Regions from separate parts of the Homo sapiens genome. Here region 1 is linked to region 2. Evidence: fine-mapped expression QTL. A gene starts in region 2. The other region holds a variant in brackets. All regions are shown on one strand. Distances are from middle to middle.

The links.
Region 1: its variant is fine-mapped to the expression of VIM-AS1 in whole blood (TOPMed, PIP above 0.99).

What each region holds. Positions count from the first base shown.
Region 1 is chr10:17,274,281-17,282,615 of GRCh38, forward strand. No RefSeq gene overlaps it. Among named protein-coding and RNA genes, the nearest start is that of VIM-AS1, 48 kb to the left of the region's middle. The variant T/C (reference allele first, on the strand shown) is at 4,205.
Region 2 is chr10:17,225,852-17,234,186 of GRCh38, forward strand. It overlaps VIM-AS1 (VIM antisense RNA 1), which reads right to left and starts at 4,134. Exons shown (of 3, transcript NR_108061.1): 1 at 3,494-4,134. VIM (vimentin) reads left to right here and starts at 2,390. Exons shown (of 10, transcript NM_003380.5): 1 at 2,390-2,673; 2 at 3,425-4,134; 3 at 4,799-4,859; 4 at 7,736-7,831; 5 at 7,919-8,080. The coding sequence starts at 3,572. RefSeq lists silencers at 869-1,083, 4,119-4,298 and an enhancer at 3,719-3,808.

The DNA of each region.
Region 1 (8,335 bases), 48 kb after region 2:
TATCTCTTTCTTTCCCAAGGAAAGTATACGAGAGTTCTTCATGGGGATAACTTTGCATCCGCTCTATTTTAATTTTTAAAAAGTGAATCATTTGTCAACTTGGGCCATCAAATTATTATTAGTTACCACTGAATCCCAATGTACCTCACAACTAATCTCAGTGCTTCTATGGAGAGCTATGACCAGAGACCTTCCTCTAACCAAGGCTCAGCAAACTACTTTTGTAAAGGGTGAGGCTGTAAATATTTTCAACCTTGGGGGCCATATGGTCTTTGCCGCAACTATTCAGCCCTGCTGCCGTAATACAAAAGCAGCTGTAGATGATGATGACTCAACCAATGGGTGCTAGTTATGTTCCAATAAAACTTTATTTGCGATGATGAGCAGGCTGATTGGGCTCAGGGGCTGTGTAGTTCCCCAACCCTGTTCTTACCACCTCTCGCCCACTCTTGGACTCAGACAGAACCCTCATCTCCCTTCATCATCCAGTGTTAGCCCATCCTTGGTGGGTTTCTCTCCTCTGCAATTCACCATCCTCTCCCCTCCAAACAAAATCCGAGGTAGCTTATTTTTCCTTGAACATTTGATGTTATTTTACTTACATTTCTTAAACTGCTGTCTGATATCTGGAAACATTCCTGTGCCTTTTATCTTATTTTTGCCTGCGGTAATATGTACTTTTGACAGAGAAGTGTGTTTGAGAGTGCATTGCCTCATTAAAAAGAGTACTGCTGCATGTATACGTTTTCCACTCAGCAATAATTATTGCCAAATAGAGCAAGGCTTCTAATTAACAAGCAAATTCCAAATTCCAAATGGTGTACCAGACTACTTAATTAGATCTGTTGCTTTTTAATTCCCTCACTGAAAGTCTCAGGCATGGCTTTAACTCTATTTTGTCAGTTATTTTCTTTAGCCTAACCCTGGTCTTACTGTAAGTCATGCTAATTATTCTCACTAATTTATTTGCTTACTGTAGTTAGAGGCTCTCTTACCCTACACAGTTCAGGGAATGTCAAAATCTCTGTGACCCATAACTCTGGTTTTATCTCCCAGACAACAAGAGCAATACCTGACAATGGTTTTGTTTGTTTTTCAGATCTAGGTGTTTTTTTTTTTCCCTCTCTCTTGCCTGCAACCTCTACATTTGTTACACAATAGAATATTTCAACTCAAACAAATGGCATGGAAAAACAGTACGTAGCCTGGTTTTACTAGAGAAATGAAGCTCAGGGCTAACATGAAGATACGGTGCTAGGGAACGGCAGGAGAGAAGGTTGAAAAGCTTAAGTAATGAGGATTTTGCAGAGAGGACTCCAGAGTGCTTTCCTCCTGTCCTTTTCTCTGGACTCCAATTTCCAGCTGTTTCTCTGCAGTTTGGCACCTGCAAGCGGTTAGCAGACCTGGAGGATGTCAGCAAAGCCTCTACCCAGGCCCACAGGAAGTAGCTTAGGCAGGATTTGTTTCCCTCTTGATGCCAGATCAACTGTATGAGATTTCTATTACTGCTGTTACAAATGACCATGCATTTAGCAGCTTAAAAACAGCACGAATCTATTATCTTACAGTTCTGGAGGTCAGAAGTTCAAAATAGGTCTCACTGGACTAAAAGAAAATTGTTGGTGGGGTTGTGTTTTTTGAAGAGGCTTTAGGGAAAAACTCCATGTCCTTACCTTTTCCAGGCCACCTACATTCCTTGGCTCATGGCCTCTTCCTCCATGTTCAAAGCCAGCAAAGGAGCCTCTTCAAATCTCTACAGGACTCTGACCCTCCTGCCTCCCACACCTAGATAATCGAGGATAACCTCCCCATCTCAAGGTCATCTGATTAGCAACCTTAATTCCATCCACAATCTTAATTCCCCCTTGTAATAGAACATATTCACAAATTCTTGGGATTAGACATCTTTGGAAGACCACTATTCTGCCTATTACCTCAACTGAGTCTAAAATTCAATAATTGAGAGTTCTGGGGCGTCTCTATGCATTTCATCAAAATTGCTGAATTCCAAAATGAAGAATAAATTTTTACATTCTAGACATAAAATTTAGTAATGTATACATACACATATAAGATTAGCATTACATTTATCTGTGGAATGAACATGGAAGAGTTTGGACACCCACAGACTAAAATCCAGGAAATGTGTTTCCATCTAAGATATCATTCAGCCATCAAGGAAAACAAAGACATTTATAAATATGCCAGAATTCCAAAACTATATAATCTGTGAACATCCCAGGAGAATATTCAAGAAAAAAACTTTTAGCCAAACAACAAAATATCTCAGATATCAGAGGACAGAGAAAGGGGAAAAGAAGATTAAATAGTGGCCAATAAAGAACATTTCAAAAAATGTATACATTGTTAAGCCTAAACAGAGAATGGTAGAATATAAAAATTAGAAATTATGCATTTAATTTTTTTGGCTGATCTTAGTGATAGAAATCTAATTTGCCATTTTATTTGATGAGAAGCCTTGTGAGGAAACTAGATTTGGTGACTTAAGTCCTTAAGGGCTGTGCTAATACTGCCTTTCTTAGTGTTAGATACGGCTAGGTTCCTCTGCAAACAGCATGCCCAGTTCTCCTGTTCGTTATTCTCTCATTCCAAGTACCCACCCCCTGCCCCCGCTTTTGCTGCGCCTTAACCTGTCTAAACATACTTAGACATGCCACAGCCCCAGTCCACATTCCTTTCCTTATGTGGGAATAGGTTAGCTTTCTAGTGCCCTGTAGGTGACCCCTTCCTTCTCCCCCTCTCTCCTCTATCACACACCTACCTTAACTAAGAAAGTTTAAATGTTTACCCAATTGAGACCAGTTTACATTGTGCGGTCCAAGCCCAGGCAATGGGGGGAAAGACACAGAGGCAGAATCTGCATTAGGAAGAAAACCCCCACTCTTCTTTGCTCCGCATGCTCTCGTGACAGCCAGGTTTATGAGCAGCACCCTTCTGCGGAAGTAAATTTACCTTGCTGAGAAATTCTTTGTTTTACTGCTCATTTTCTTTGTGACCCTGAGCTCTTACTTCTGACATTAGCAAGATAACAAAAAAAAGATAAAGAATATTTATTTCCTGGTGGCCACGAGAGCACTCTAAACAAACAAACAGTGCTAGAAACTAAAAGCATTCATGGTCTGGGAGAACAAACCGTGTGCTAGCTCAGTTAGAGGTACTGTCCCTAAATTTACTGATAGTTATAAGAAAAAAACAACAACAGGAATTCCTGAGGAATGTAAGTGTTTGACAACAAGGCCTGTAAATATAATGGTTTAACCACAAAGCTTGAAAACGTTTGTTATGGGAAATTGATTTTCTTCACTTCAGCTGTAAATTAACTCATCAGTTTTGTGATAAGTAACCTACCACTCAGGATGTGAACTTTCTGGCCTTGTGATAATGAATCCACCACACTGTGCCTGTTCTCCTATTTTTTAGAGAGCTTTTTCTTCCCTTACCAGTTCTATTCCCAACAGTATAGAAGTGATTTAAGCTGCCTCTGACAGATCTGATCCATATAGAGTACAAAGCCTCTTTCTTCCATGCACTGTGAGTGAAATACTAACAACAGCCTTGTACTAAAAGTTATAAATTTAGGAAAAGCTAGGCCTTGAGGGGATGGGAGTGAGTTAAGTAAAATTAAAAGTAGTCTAAATTTATCTTCTTTCTGGTGTATGAATAAAAGCAATAGGGAAATAGAGTATCTGAAGTATATAGGAATTCTATCTTGCTTTCATGTAATAGTCAAGAAACAGTATTTAATTATGAAGCTAATTGTTCAAACAAAGAAAAAAACTAACACATTTTCAAAAGAAGAAATTTTAAGAGACCACATTCCTTGATCATAATCTGATACAGTTAAGCAAAAAATAAAACTATGCCTCTATTACTCAGAAAATAATAAATCCACTTCTACTTAAATCTTTGATAGAAGAGAAAAGTCAAAATAAAATCATCAACTATAGGTAGACCAGTGAAAGGAAGGCCACTACATTCTAAAACCTCTGGCACACAGGCCGGGCATGGTGGCTCCTGCCTGTAATCCCAGCACTTTGGGAGGTCGAGGCAGGCAGATCACTTGAGGTCAGGAGTTTGAGACCAGCCTGGCCAACATGGTGAAAACCCATCTCCACTAAAAATACAAAAATTAGCTGGGTGTGATGGTGCGCACCTGTAATCTCAGCTACTTGGGAGGCTGAGG[T/C]AGGAGAATCGCTTGAACCCAGGAGGTGGAGGCTGCAGTGAGCCAAGACCACGCCACTGTACTCTAGCCTGGGCAACAGAGGAAGGAATTTATCTCAAATAATAATAATAATAAAAGCATCTGGTACACAATGACAACTATACTCATTGGGAGATTACAACCTTGAAAGCTGTGTTGGGGGTCCCCAAGACCACCCTCAGGCTTGTCAATATACTAGTAGGACTCAGAGGAGTCATAAAAGCCGTTGTGCTCACAATTACACTTTATTGCAGGGAAAGATGCAGATTAAAATCAGCAAAATGCCAAGGGTCATGGAGCAAAGTCCAGGAGAAACCAAGTGCCAACTTCCAGATGTCCTCTCCCAGTAGAGAAACACAGGTGCATTTAATTCTCCCAGCAAGAATGTGTGACTATACATGCAAAATATTGCCAGCCAGGGAAACTCACCTGAGGCTTGGTGTCCACGGTTTTTATTGGCAGAGTCAGTAACATAGACGTAGTACATGCATGATTGCCCTCAGCCTCTCAGAGCAAAAATAGCAAAAATAAGCATCACCATAAATCACATTGTTAGCATAAACAATCTGACTAAACTAGTACCAGGTAGCCCCAGGCCTCAGTCATGCAAAACTCTCTGATCCTGCAGAATATTTCAACATCTCAGAGCTCAGCTCCCAGGAGCCAGCTAGGGCTGATCGTAAAGGCAGGCCTTTTTTGGGAACATGTGGAGTTTAGCAGCCAGACCTGCAGTTAGCACCTTCTGCACAAATGTCTCCACGATTATAGAAGAAACAATAAATTTTTTTAAAAATTCAATGCTTGGTTTAAGAAATTAGAAATAAAAAAACAAAAAGTAGCACAAGAAGGAATTAAGATAACAAAAAAATAAAATGTAATAATAGGTTAAATATATCCCAAAGCCAGTTCTTCCAAAGGACCAATAAAATAGACAAACTTTCATGAGTTTAATCAAGAATTAAAGAGGACAGAAATATACAAGCTTAGGAATGAGAAAGAAAACATGACCGTAGATAAGGAAGGCATTAAAATAGTTTTAAGAATATCCTAGGACAATGCGTAGAAATAAAGGTCAAAACCTGGAGGAAATGTGTATTTTTTTAGCAAAATATAAGCTGCCACTATTGATCCCAGAGGAAGGAACAACCATGAATAAACAAATTACCATAGAAGGGATGGACAAGATAATGGAAGATCTACAATTAAGAAAGACAGCAGTATAAGATATTGTCACAGCTGAGGAAAGCCCTCTAGCAAGGAGATGCAGGTGTTGGCAGCTGGAAGTCCAGCAGGCATTCACAGAAAAGGTAAGAGTGAGAGGACCTGACAGAACGCTGATAGTATCTGCAACAACTACTAGGGCAAAAATATGTTAATTGCCCTGGTAGGCAAGGAAATGCACATTAAAACAATAGACATCATTGTGCCCCATAATATTGGCAATTACAAGGGGGAATTACAGATGCTTATGGCTGGAGGCCCACAGGAAAAAAAGATTCTCTTATATTTGGTGGTGGAAGTATGAATTGTCACAACCTATTGAGAAACAATCCAATAATATCCATTAAAATTCAAGTTGTGTGTGTGTGTGTGTGTATGTAATTTGTTTTAGCAAGTTCTAGGGATCCATCCCATGGAAATAAAATAAACACAACAATCTATAGGAATATATGATCAGGGAGATTTTACAGCAATATTGTAGAGATTTTTAGAAAAGAAAATGCCAATCAATAGGAAAATGGCTGAAAACATATTAATACCTCCATACCATGTACAATTGTTCAGCTATTAAAAATGAGTTATGGCCAGGCATGGTGGCTCATGCCTGTAATCCCAGCACTTTGGGAGGTTGAGGCAGGAAGATAATTAAGGCCAGGAGTTCAAGAGCAGCCCAGGCAACATAGTGAGATCCCACCCCTACTAAGAATTTAAAAAACTTTAAATAAATTTATAAAATAAAATTTTAAAATGAGTTAGATCTAAATAGATCAAATCAGAAGAATTTTTCAATGTATTATTAAGTGAGAAAGCTAAGATATGGAGGAATTTCCATAATATGATTTCATTTTAGTAAAAAAAAAAGTTAAATCACATTGTGTCTGTGTTTATGCTTGTACAAAAGCATGAAGGAAGGTCCAGAAGGATGCTCAGTAGCTTGGTACACAAGGTACCCTGCTTCTTCTGGTGGTGGAGAGAGATGGTAGTAATGCCAATGTTTGGGAAGGAAAGAGAGAGAGAGAGAGACCCAAGATTAAAAAATATGTATGGTATCTCTGTTAGCCCATTTTCACATTGCTGTAAAAAAAACTCTCTGAGACTGGGTAATTTATAAAAAAAGAGGTTTAGCTGACTCACAGTTCCATATTGCTGGGGAGGCCTCAGGAAACACAATCATGGTGGAAGGTGAAGGGGAAGAAAGGCACTTCTTACATGGTAGGAAGAGAGAGAGACTGAGGGGGGAAGTGCCACACTTTTAAACCATCAGATCTCGTGAGAACACCTCACTATCACAAGAACAGCACGGGAGAAATCTGCCACCATGATTCAATCACCTCCACCAGGCCCCTCCCCTGACATGTGGGGATTACAATTCAACATGAGATTTGGGTGGGGATGAAGAGCCAAACAATATCAATATCTATGCATCATTCTATATGTGTATGGATATAAAGAAATATATGAAAAGCAGGTCTCCAAAATTAAATAGTGTCATGTGACAAGATATCAGAGATGGTTTTGCCTCTCTGTTTCACATATTTTTGAGTCTTAATTTTAATTAATGTGTGTTTGTATTAGTCAGGGTTCTCCAAGGAACAGAACCAATGGCAGAGAGAGAGAGAGAATAGATGATTTGATAAACAGAGAGATAAATAGATGATTTAATAGATAGTTAGAGAGATAGGAAGATAGAGGATAGACATAGATATAGATAGATGTTTAGATAGATAAATACATAGGAAGATAAATAGATGATAGATAGGGAGATAGAGAGGAAGACTGATAAATCATAGATGATTTGATGGATGATAGATATATGGATAGGAAGACAGATAGTCATATGGTTAGGCTGTATCCCCACTCAAAATCTCATCTTGAATTGTAATCCCCATGTGTCAAGGATGGACCAAGTGGACGTAATTGGATCATAGAGGTGGTTTCCCCCATGCTGTTCTTGTGATAATGAGTGAGTCTCATATGATCTGATGGTTTTATCAGCATCTGGCATTTCCCCTGCTTGTTCTCATTCCGTCCTGCTGCCCTGTGAAGGTGTCTGCTTCTCCTTTGCCTTCTGCCATGATTGTAAGTCTCCGGAGACCTCCCCAGCCATAATAAACTGTGAATCGATTAAACCTCTTTCCTTTATAAATTACCCATTTCTTCATAGCAGTGTAAATTGGTACCGGAAGTGGAGTGCTGCTAGAAAGCTACCTGAAAATGTGGAATAACTTTGGAAATGGGGTAACAGGCAGAGATTGGAACAATTTGGAGGGCTCAGAAGAAGAAAGGAAGATGTGGGAAAGTTTGGAACTTCCTAAAGACTTGTTAAATGGTTTTGACCAAAATGCTGATAGTGATGTGAACAATGAAGTCCAGGCTGAGGTGGTCTCAGATGAAGATGAGGAACTTGTTGGGAACTGGAATAAAGGTGACCCTCGCTATGCTTTAGCAAAGAGACTGGCAGCATTTTGCCCCTGCACTAGAGATCTGTGGAACTTTGAACTTGACAGAGATGACTTAGGGTATCTGACAGAAGAAATTCTTAAACAGCAAAGCATTCAAGAGGTGACAGAACATAAAAGTTTGGAAAATTTGCAGCCTGACAATACAAGAGAAAAGAAAAATCTATTTTCTGGGGAGAAATTCAAGCCAGCTGCAGAAATTTGCATAAGTAACGAGGGGCCAAATGTTAATCACCAAGCCAATGGGGGAGATGTCTCCAGGGCATAACAGATAACTTCATGGCAGCCCTACCCCCATGACAGGCCCAGAGGCCTAGGAGGAAAAAATGGTTTTGTGGGGCAGGTCCAGCGCCCTGCGGCTGTTTGCAGCCTTGGGACTTGGTGCCCTGCATCCTAGCTGTGCCAGCTCCAGCTGTGGCTAAAAGGGGTTAAA
Region 2 (8,335 bases):
GTTCTCTTGGCATGGCTAGCCAGCTTTCCCAAAGCCTCCATAGGCCACTAAGCTTCTGTCCACACGGCTGGCTGGTCCGTCAGTTTAAGTCACCCAATTCAACTGACATCATGACAGCTTGCAAATTCCAAAATCACTGTTGGTAATTTAGATGTGGTAGTGTTTATGCCTGGCCTATGAATTATACCACCACGTCTTTATTTATATGCAACTTGCATCATGCTGTGTTGAAAGCAGCTTCCCAGTCCAGCACTTGAAAATACTTCTCAGATAGGTTTTCATAGCAATTAAAAAATAAACACAAAACCCGGGAAAGCTATGTCTGTGTACCCAAAAGATACCTAAGAACACAGTAGCATAGAGAGCAGGCTGAGTTGTCTCACTCAAGGATGTGAGTTCAGATTCATTGATCTCCCTGACTGAAAACTATCACCCATTGATTGAGGCACTGTATATCTTATCTCAGAATGAAATGAATTCTTAAGTCTCATGAATTCTACATGAATGAATGAAAGTGTTTCTGCAACTTTCACTTCTCTTGCAGCCCACCAAAAACAATGGCATTTTCTAATAGGAAAAACACATTGAACGCTGTATATGTGCGTATGTATATGTGTGTGTAGTACATACATATACTTTATTTTGAGACAGGTTCTCACTCTGTTGCACAGGGTGGAGTGCAGTGGTGTGCACAGCCTACTGCAGCCTCAATTTCCCAGGCTCAAGCAATCCCCCTGCCTTAGTCTCCCAAGTAGCTGGGACCACAGGTGTGCACCATCACGCCTGGCTTTTTTTGGTTTCATATATATATGTTGCCTAAGCTGGTCTCAAACTCCTGATCTCAAGCAATCCTCCTGCTTTGGCCTCCCAAAGTGCTGGGACTACAGAACACCTACACTTTTATACATTCTATATGCATCAAACAAACATATGTCTGTGACAAGAGAGCAGCCTATCACAGCCCAGAGACTTCAGAATGGGGACAGGTTGGAAGGAGGAGCTACCTATCCCTGAGATGATGAAGAGGACCAGTGCCCATTCCAGGAGACATCACCGCAGCCCTGAGGAATCGGCTATGGGCACCAGCAGGGCACAGTGCCACACCTCGCCAATGCCTTGTCCTCCTTTTCCATAGTGAGTCAGTCAGCAAGCGTCGCATTGCCCTGGGATCGGCACTGCACGTAGAAGTGAGTTCCACACTCTCTTCCTCCCATAGGGAGATCACTTTTCTCATTCTAAGGGTTCCAGGCACACTCACAATGGTGGCATTTGCTGAGCAGTGGCTTGAATAAAGGGCTCTCAGAAAGCAAGATGTAACTCAGAGCATAGGCTTGTCCTCCAGGGCACCCAGCCCCAGGAATGCTCTTGGGGAATGACCTGCAGCCTCCCAGTGAAAGAGAGAATAAAAGAAAGCCCCAGCAGGCGAGCTGGGCAGTAGAGAGTCCTGTAATTCCACCTTGGCAAGCACCATTTGCAAGAACGAACTGGGATAAGGTAAACAAAATATTGCCTAAAAGAGGCTTGTCCAAAGAAGTCAGAATACGCTCTTCATTTACCTCTAAATTATGTTTCTTAAATACCAAGTAACCTGCAGTACCCCCTGCCGCCACCAAAAAAAAAGAGAGAAATACTTTTTTTTCTCCTATCCACTGCAGAATCAATTTTACAGTGGTTCTGCAGTTAATCCTTTCAGTACACCATAAATCTAAATACTCAAAAAAACCTGTGCCTTTTCAATTGCTACTAAATCACGAGAAGACTGATTTACATAGTCTCCTTTTATCTCCCTTGGCGGGTAAGTACTCAGCTCTGCTCGTTACTAATATTGAAACAACAGCCCTTGAATTGAGTGATTTCCCTAGAAAGGTTAAGGTGACCGAATCTGAACACTCCCTCCATGTCTTGGACACGAAGTTTTTTGCTGCGTAGACAGTTTTATCCCCCTCACCCCAAGGTCAATTGCACGAATTCTTTTGGAAAACAGGACCTATGGCATTTCCCAGACAAATCACCGTGAACCCTGTACTGTGCATTGCTGTCCTAAAATTAACACATAAATCTATTGCCGCCAAAGATTCTGTCATTTGTGTTACATAATTGCCTTTCATTTGAACTCATTAATCAAATTGGGGTTTTTAAGCAACACCTAATTAATTCTTTAACTGGCTCATATTATACCTTTAATGACTTCCACCAGGGTAAAAACCACTGATCACTGAGTTCTATTTTGAAACTACGGACGTCGAGTTTCCTCTTTCACCCAGAATTTTCAGATCTTGTTTAAAAAGTTGGGTGTGGTTTCATGGGGGGAGGGGGAAGAGCGAGAGGAGACCAGAGGGACGGGGGCGGGGACTCTGCAAGAAAAACCTTCCCGGTGCAATCGTGATCTGGGAGGCCCACGTATGGCGCCTCTCCAAAGGCTGCAGAAGTTTCTTGCTAACAAAAAGTCCGCACATTCGAGCAAAGACAGGCTTTAGCGAGTTATTAAAAACTTAGGGGCGCTCTTGTCCCCCACAGGGCCCGACCGCACACAGCAAGGCGATGGCCCAGCTGTAAGTTGGTAGCACTGAGAACTAGCAGCGCGCGCGGAGCCCGCTGAGACTTGAATCAATCTGGTCTAACGGTTTCCCCTAAACCGCTAGGAGCCCTCAATCGGCGGGACAGCAGGGCGCGGTGAGTCACCGCCGGTGACTAAGCGACCCCACCCCTCTCCCTCGGGCTTTCCTCTGCCACCGCCGTCTCGCAACTCCCGCCGTCCGAAGCTGGACTGAGCCCGTTAGGTCCCTCGACAGAACCTCCCCTCCCCCCAACATCTCTCCGCCAAGGCAAGTCGATGGACAGAGGCGCGGGCCGGAGCAGCCCCCCTTTCCAAGCGGGCGGCGCGCGAGGCTGCGGCGAGGCCTGAGCCCTGCGTTCCTGCGCTGTGCGCGCCCCCACCCCGCGTTCCAATCTCAGGCGCTCTTTGTTTCTTTCTCCGCGACTTCAGATCTGAGGGATTCCTTACTCTTTCCTCTTCCCGCTCCTTTGCCCGCGGGTCTCCCCGCCTGACCGCAGCCCCGAGACCGCCGCGCACCTCCTCCCACGCCCCTTTGGCGTGGTGCCACCGGACCCCTCTGGTTCAGTCCCAGGCGGACCCCCCCCTCACCGCGCGACCCCGCCTTTTTCAGCACCCCAGGGTGAGCCCAGCTCAGACTATCATCCGGAAAGCCCCCAAAAGTCCCAGCCCAGCGCTGAAGTAACGGGACCATGCCCAGTCCCAGGCCCCGGAGCAGGAAGGCTCGAGGGCGCCCCCACCCCACCCGCCCACCCTCCCCGCTTCTCGCTAGGTCCCTATTGGCTGGCGCGCTCCGCGGCTGGGATGGCAGTGGGAGGGGACCCTCTTTCCTAACGGGGTTATAAAAACAGCGCCCTCGGCGGGGTCCAGTCCTCTGCCACTCTCGCTCCGAGGTCCCCGCGCCAGAGACGCAGCCGCGCTCCCACCACCCACACCCACCGCGCCCTCGTTCGCCTCTTCTCCGGGAGCCAGTCCGCGCCACCGCCGCCGCCCAGGCCATCGCCACCCTCCGCAGCCATGTCCACCAGGTCCGTGTCCTCGTCCTCCTACCGCAGGATGTTCGGCGGCCCGGGCACCGCGAGCCGGCCGAGCTCCAGCCGGAGCTACGTGACTACGTCCACCCGCACCTACAGCCTGGGCAGCGCGCTGCGCCCCAGCACCAGCCGCAGCCTCTACGCCTCGTCCCCGGGCGGCGTGTATGCCACGCGCTCCTCTGCCGTGCGCCTGCGGAGCAGCGTGCCCGGGGTGCGGCTCCTGCAGGACTCGGTGGACTTCTCGCTGGCCGACGCCATCAACACCGAGTTCAAGAACACCCGCACCAACGAGAAGGTGGAGCTGCAGGAGCTGAATGACCGCTTCGCCAACTACATCGACAAGGTGCGCTTCCTGGAGCAGCAGAATAAGATCCTGCTGGCCGAGCTCGAGCAGCTCAAGGGCCAAGGCAAGTCGCGCCTGGGGGACCTCTACGAGGAGGAGATGCGGGAGCTGCGCCGGCAGGTGGACCAGCTAACCAACGACAAAGCCCGCGTCGAGGTGGAGCGCGACAACCTGGCCGAGGACATCATGCGCCTCCGGGAGAAGTAAGGCTGCGCCCATGCAAGTAGCTGGGCCTCGGGAGGGGGCTGGAGGGAGAGGGGAACGCCCCCCCGGCCCCCGCGAGAGCTGCCACGCCCTTGGGGATGTGGCCGGGGGGAGGCCTGCCAGGGAGACAGCGGAGAGCGGGGCTGTGGCTGTGGTGGCGCAGCCCCGCCCAGAACCCAGACCTTGCAGTTCGCATTTCCTCCTCTGTCCCCACACATTGCCCAAGGACGCTCCGTTTCAAGTTACAGATTTCTTAAAACTACCACTTTGTGTGCAGTTGAAGGCCCTTGGGCACAATGAGAGCCAGTCCTCCAAACTTTCAGAAAGTTTCCTGCCCCTTCTGGCAGGCTGCCAATCACCGGGCGGGAGAAGGAAGGAGGGGAAGGCGGTGGAGGGAGCGAGACAAAGGGATGGTCCCTCGGGGGCGGGGATGGCGGGGCTGTCCTGTAGGTCTGTGCGGCCACCGTGATTGCCCCTCTGCGCGGTGCCCGAAGTCCCGCTGAAACCTGCCGAGGGCAGCAGGTCTGAAAGCTGCAGGCGCTAGTTGCGCGGAGGTGGCGCAGCTGCTCTGGAGGCGCAGAGCGAATACGTGGTGTTTGGGTGTGGCCGCCCCGCCCCTGGCGGTTTCCTCGTTCCCCTTTGGTTAATGCGCAACTGTTTCAGATTGCAGGAGGAGATGCTTCAGAGAGAGGAAGCCGAAAACACCCTGCAATCTTTCAGACAGGTTTGTAGACTCTCTTCCCACTCGCAGCCGCCTGACCCCACCCAACACAACCCACGAGCAATTCTAAAAGTTGCTTAACTCACGTCTAAAAAGTGCAAAACTTCAGGGCTGCGCGTAAAGCCCTCTAGTGGCGGGAAGACCACAGGTTGGAGCTTCTCATGATTAGAAAAATATTAATAAAACCCCTTGAGCGATTTTTTTTTTTTTTTTGAGACGGAGTCTTACTCTGTCGCCCAGGCTGGAGTGCAGTGGCGAGATCTTGGCTCACTGCATCCTCCGCCTCCCGGGTTCAAGCGATCCTTGAATGATTTCTAAGCAGTTCCTTGGGACATAAAGAAAAATCTTTTAACTTTTTACTTTGTTTCCCAAATGTTGCACAGTTTTGCAACACATTGACCTTCTGGTTTCGAACGGTTACAATTTTAGATTGTGGTTTGCCAAAGTCAAGTTGCTTAATTTTTACAAGGCCACAAAAAGCGCAATTATGCCCTGCAGTTTAAAATGGAAAACGTGTTGGAAGATAAGAAAACTTAGTTTCCAACTGGAATGGAGCCAGCAAGTTTCTTTTCTTCTTTGCAAATTCTATTGTGTCATTAAAGTTCGATGGAAGTATCACTATGCACAACTATTTTGTGATCTAATAAGGGTGAAAAGGAGCCATCTGTCCCCTTGGCTAAGGGGTATTAATGGTTTCTATGGGCTTCACTATGGAATGTAGATACAGACATTCTGGCAAATGTGGTGGCTCTGGACAGAAATAATAGGAGTCTTTGTATTCCCAGGGAAGCTTTGCAACAGGCTACATTCTTACTGAATATGTAATGATGTAAGCACGGTTCTAATTGGACACAAGTATTTGCTAACATCCGTTATCTAATATCTGGCCCAGACTTGAGAAGTAGGTAATGTAAAAAGTTTTTAAAGCTACAAGCATACCTCACATTTTAAAAGTCCTTTCTTGATTGGGTTCTTGTGTTCTTTAGCACTCTTGCCATAAAAAATAATAACAGTAATAAACCCAAGGCTGAAAAACTGAATTTTAACTAAAGGGTTTTTGTGCGTGTTTTTTTTTTTTTTCACCAAAATTAGATGGACTTACAGAATTTTTAACTTAAAATTGGAATCCAAAAGCCAGAAGATCCCCATTATAGTTTATAGTTGTATTCCCTGGAATATTTACTGGGATTAACTGCAAAGCACTCTCAGATGAATAGTGTAGTATAACATTTTGAAACTGAAATACATTTACCAAATTAATTTAACCACAGCAATGTGTGTGGTTCATTTTAGTCCTTGAGCATTTTTGATTATCATACCTGTCATGTTTTCTGCAGTGTAGTGAGTTAACATAAAACAACATCAATACAAAAGATCCTCTGTTTCGAGATTAAGCAAAATTCCTCATTCTCTTCAATGTGATAGAATACCACATTGATCTTTCTTTGGAGGTTAGTAAAATATCTTTTATGTATTTTTCAGGGCTTAACAAGTAAAAATCAATGTTTTCATCAAGTCTGATCTTTTTGTCACCCACTCTTCATTCATTTTTCCACTAAGGTGATAGAAAAGTCTCAACAGTTTAAGACCGTAAGGCTATGAACTCCAAATATAATTGCTGACAAGATAAGCAATCCTCACGCATCCTTTTGAGAGGAAATAAAATCTTAGTTGCAAGATTACATATTCTGATTTGGAATGCTGAGCTTTTTAAATGGAAATATAGAAGGACGGCTGAATCAGCAAAAATCCTTTATGTAGTTTCATTCTTTGCAAGCTTGACCAGTCATTCTGAAACAGGCTAACTGAACTGATACAGTGGCAAGTGAAAAAGACATGCCTTTACAGGATGAGTCAAAGGAGTTTTAGAAGAAAAATCCACCAGAGAAAGCCAAGCAAATACAGTTCAGAGTTACATTTCTTTTCCATTTTTTCCTGAACTGAATCTTTGGCATGCATATCCTGAATTGGGTTATTGAATATAAATCTAGCCTTGTACAATGGATGCCAGATGACTACATATTTGCTTTGGAGCCTAAGGATAAGTTTCAAAAGATTTGAGTGGAGAAGAAAAGCTAAAACTCTTGAAGCACAAGTTTCTGTTCTCCATGTACTCAAGTGTACATGAAGTTGTGAAAATTTGTCCACCTCTATCATCATGTTATTCCATGAAATTACAAAACAAATCTTAAAAATGTTGTGGCATAGATTTTCTAGATTTAAAAAGTAATTAAATTAAATGAATTACTTTATTTTTTGAGACAGAGTGTCACTCTGTTGCCCAGGCTGGAGTGCAGTGGCACTATGTTGGCTCACTGCAACCTCTGCCTCCTGGGTTGAAGAAATTCTCCTGCCTCAACCTCCCAAGTAGCTGGGACTACAGGCATGTGCCACCACACCCAGCTAATTTTTGTATTTTTGGTAGAGACGGGGTTTCGCCATGTTGGCTAGGCTGGTCTCGAACTCCTGACCTCAAGTGATCCACCCGTCTCAGCCTCCCAAAGTGCTGGGATTACAGGCATAAGCCACCATGACCAGCCTTAAAAAGTAATTTTAAAATATCACTGGTAAAATGTGGATTCAGTCATGATTGAGTGCAGTTTACCATGTGTGTGGACATTTATTTATTTTAAAATTGTCTGATCACCACCTTGAGTAAAACACAAGCAGTCACAATTAAAATATATTAGTGAGCAGGAGAAAGCACAGCATATTATAGCACTGAATGATTTATAAACCTATTCCAGGGTCATAAAATGTGTCAACGGCTTTTCTATAGTAAGGAGACTAGGTTCAGATGGTTAATCTAAGACAAATAAATGAGATAAGCCATACACTTTTACATCCTCCATGTCCTGTCTTTTCTCTGTTCAAAATAGGATGTTGACAATGCGTCTCTGGCACGTCTTGACCTTGAACGCAAAGTGGAATCTTTGCAAGAAGAGATTGCCTTTTTGAAGAAACTCCACGAAGAGGTTAGTGGAGTGACTTTCGGGGAATGAATGAGGGTAAGGCAGCCCCCACGGTTGGCAGAGCTGACCGTCTGTCTGTTCTTTTTGCAGGAAATCCAGGAGCTGCAGGCTCAGATTCAGGAACAGCATGTCCAAATCGATGTGGATGTTTCCAAGCCTGACCTCACGGCTGCCCTGCGTGACGTACGTCAGCAATATGAAAGTGTGGCTGCCAAGAACCTGCAGGAGGCAGAAGAATGGTACAAATCCAAGGTAGGAAACAAATCAGTGCGGCTTCAACCAAAGAAAAGCATTGTGTTCTCAAAACCCCATACCTGTGTGTGATTCCTAAATATCCTCTAGCTCCAATGCAAAGCTGGCTTTGACTTCTTGCTCATATTGTGTTTGCCACCACAGCCTCCCCACCACTCACATCACCTCCTTTATTTATTTATTTATTTTCTTATTTATTTATGAGACAGAGTCTTGCTCTACTGCCCAGGCTGGAGTGCAGTGGCAACATCTTGG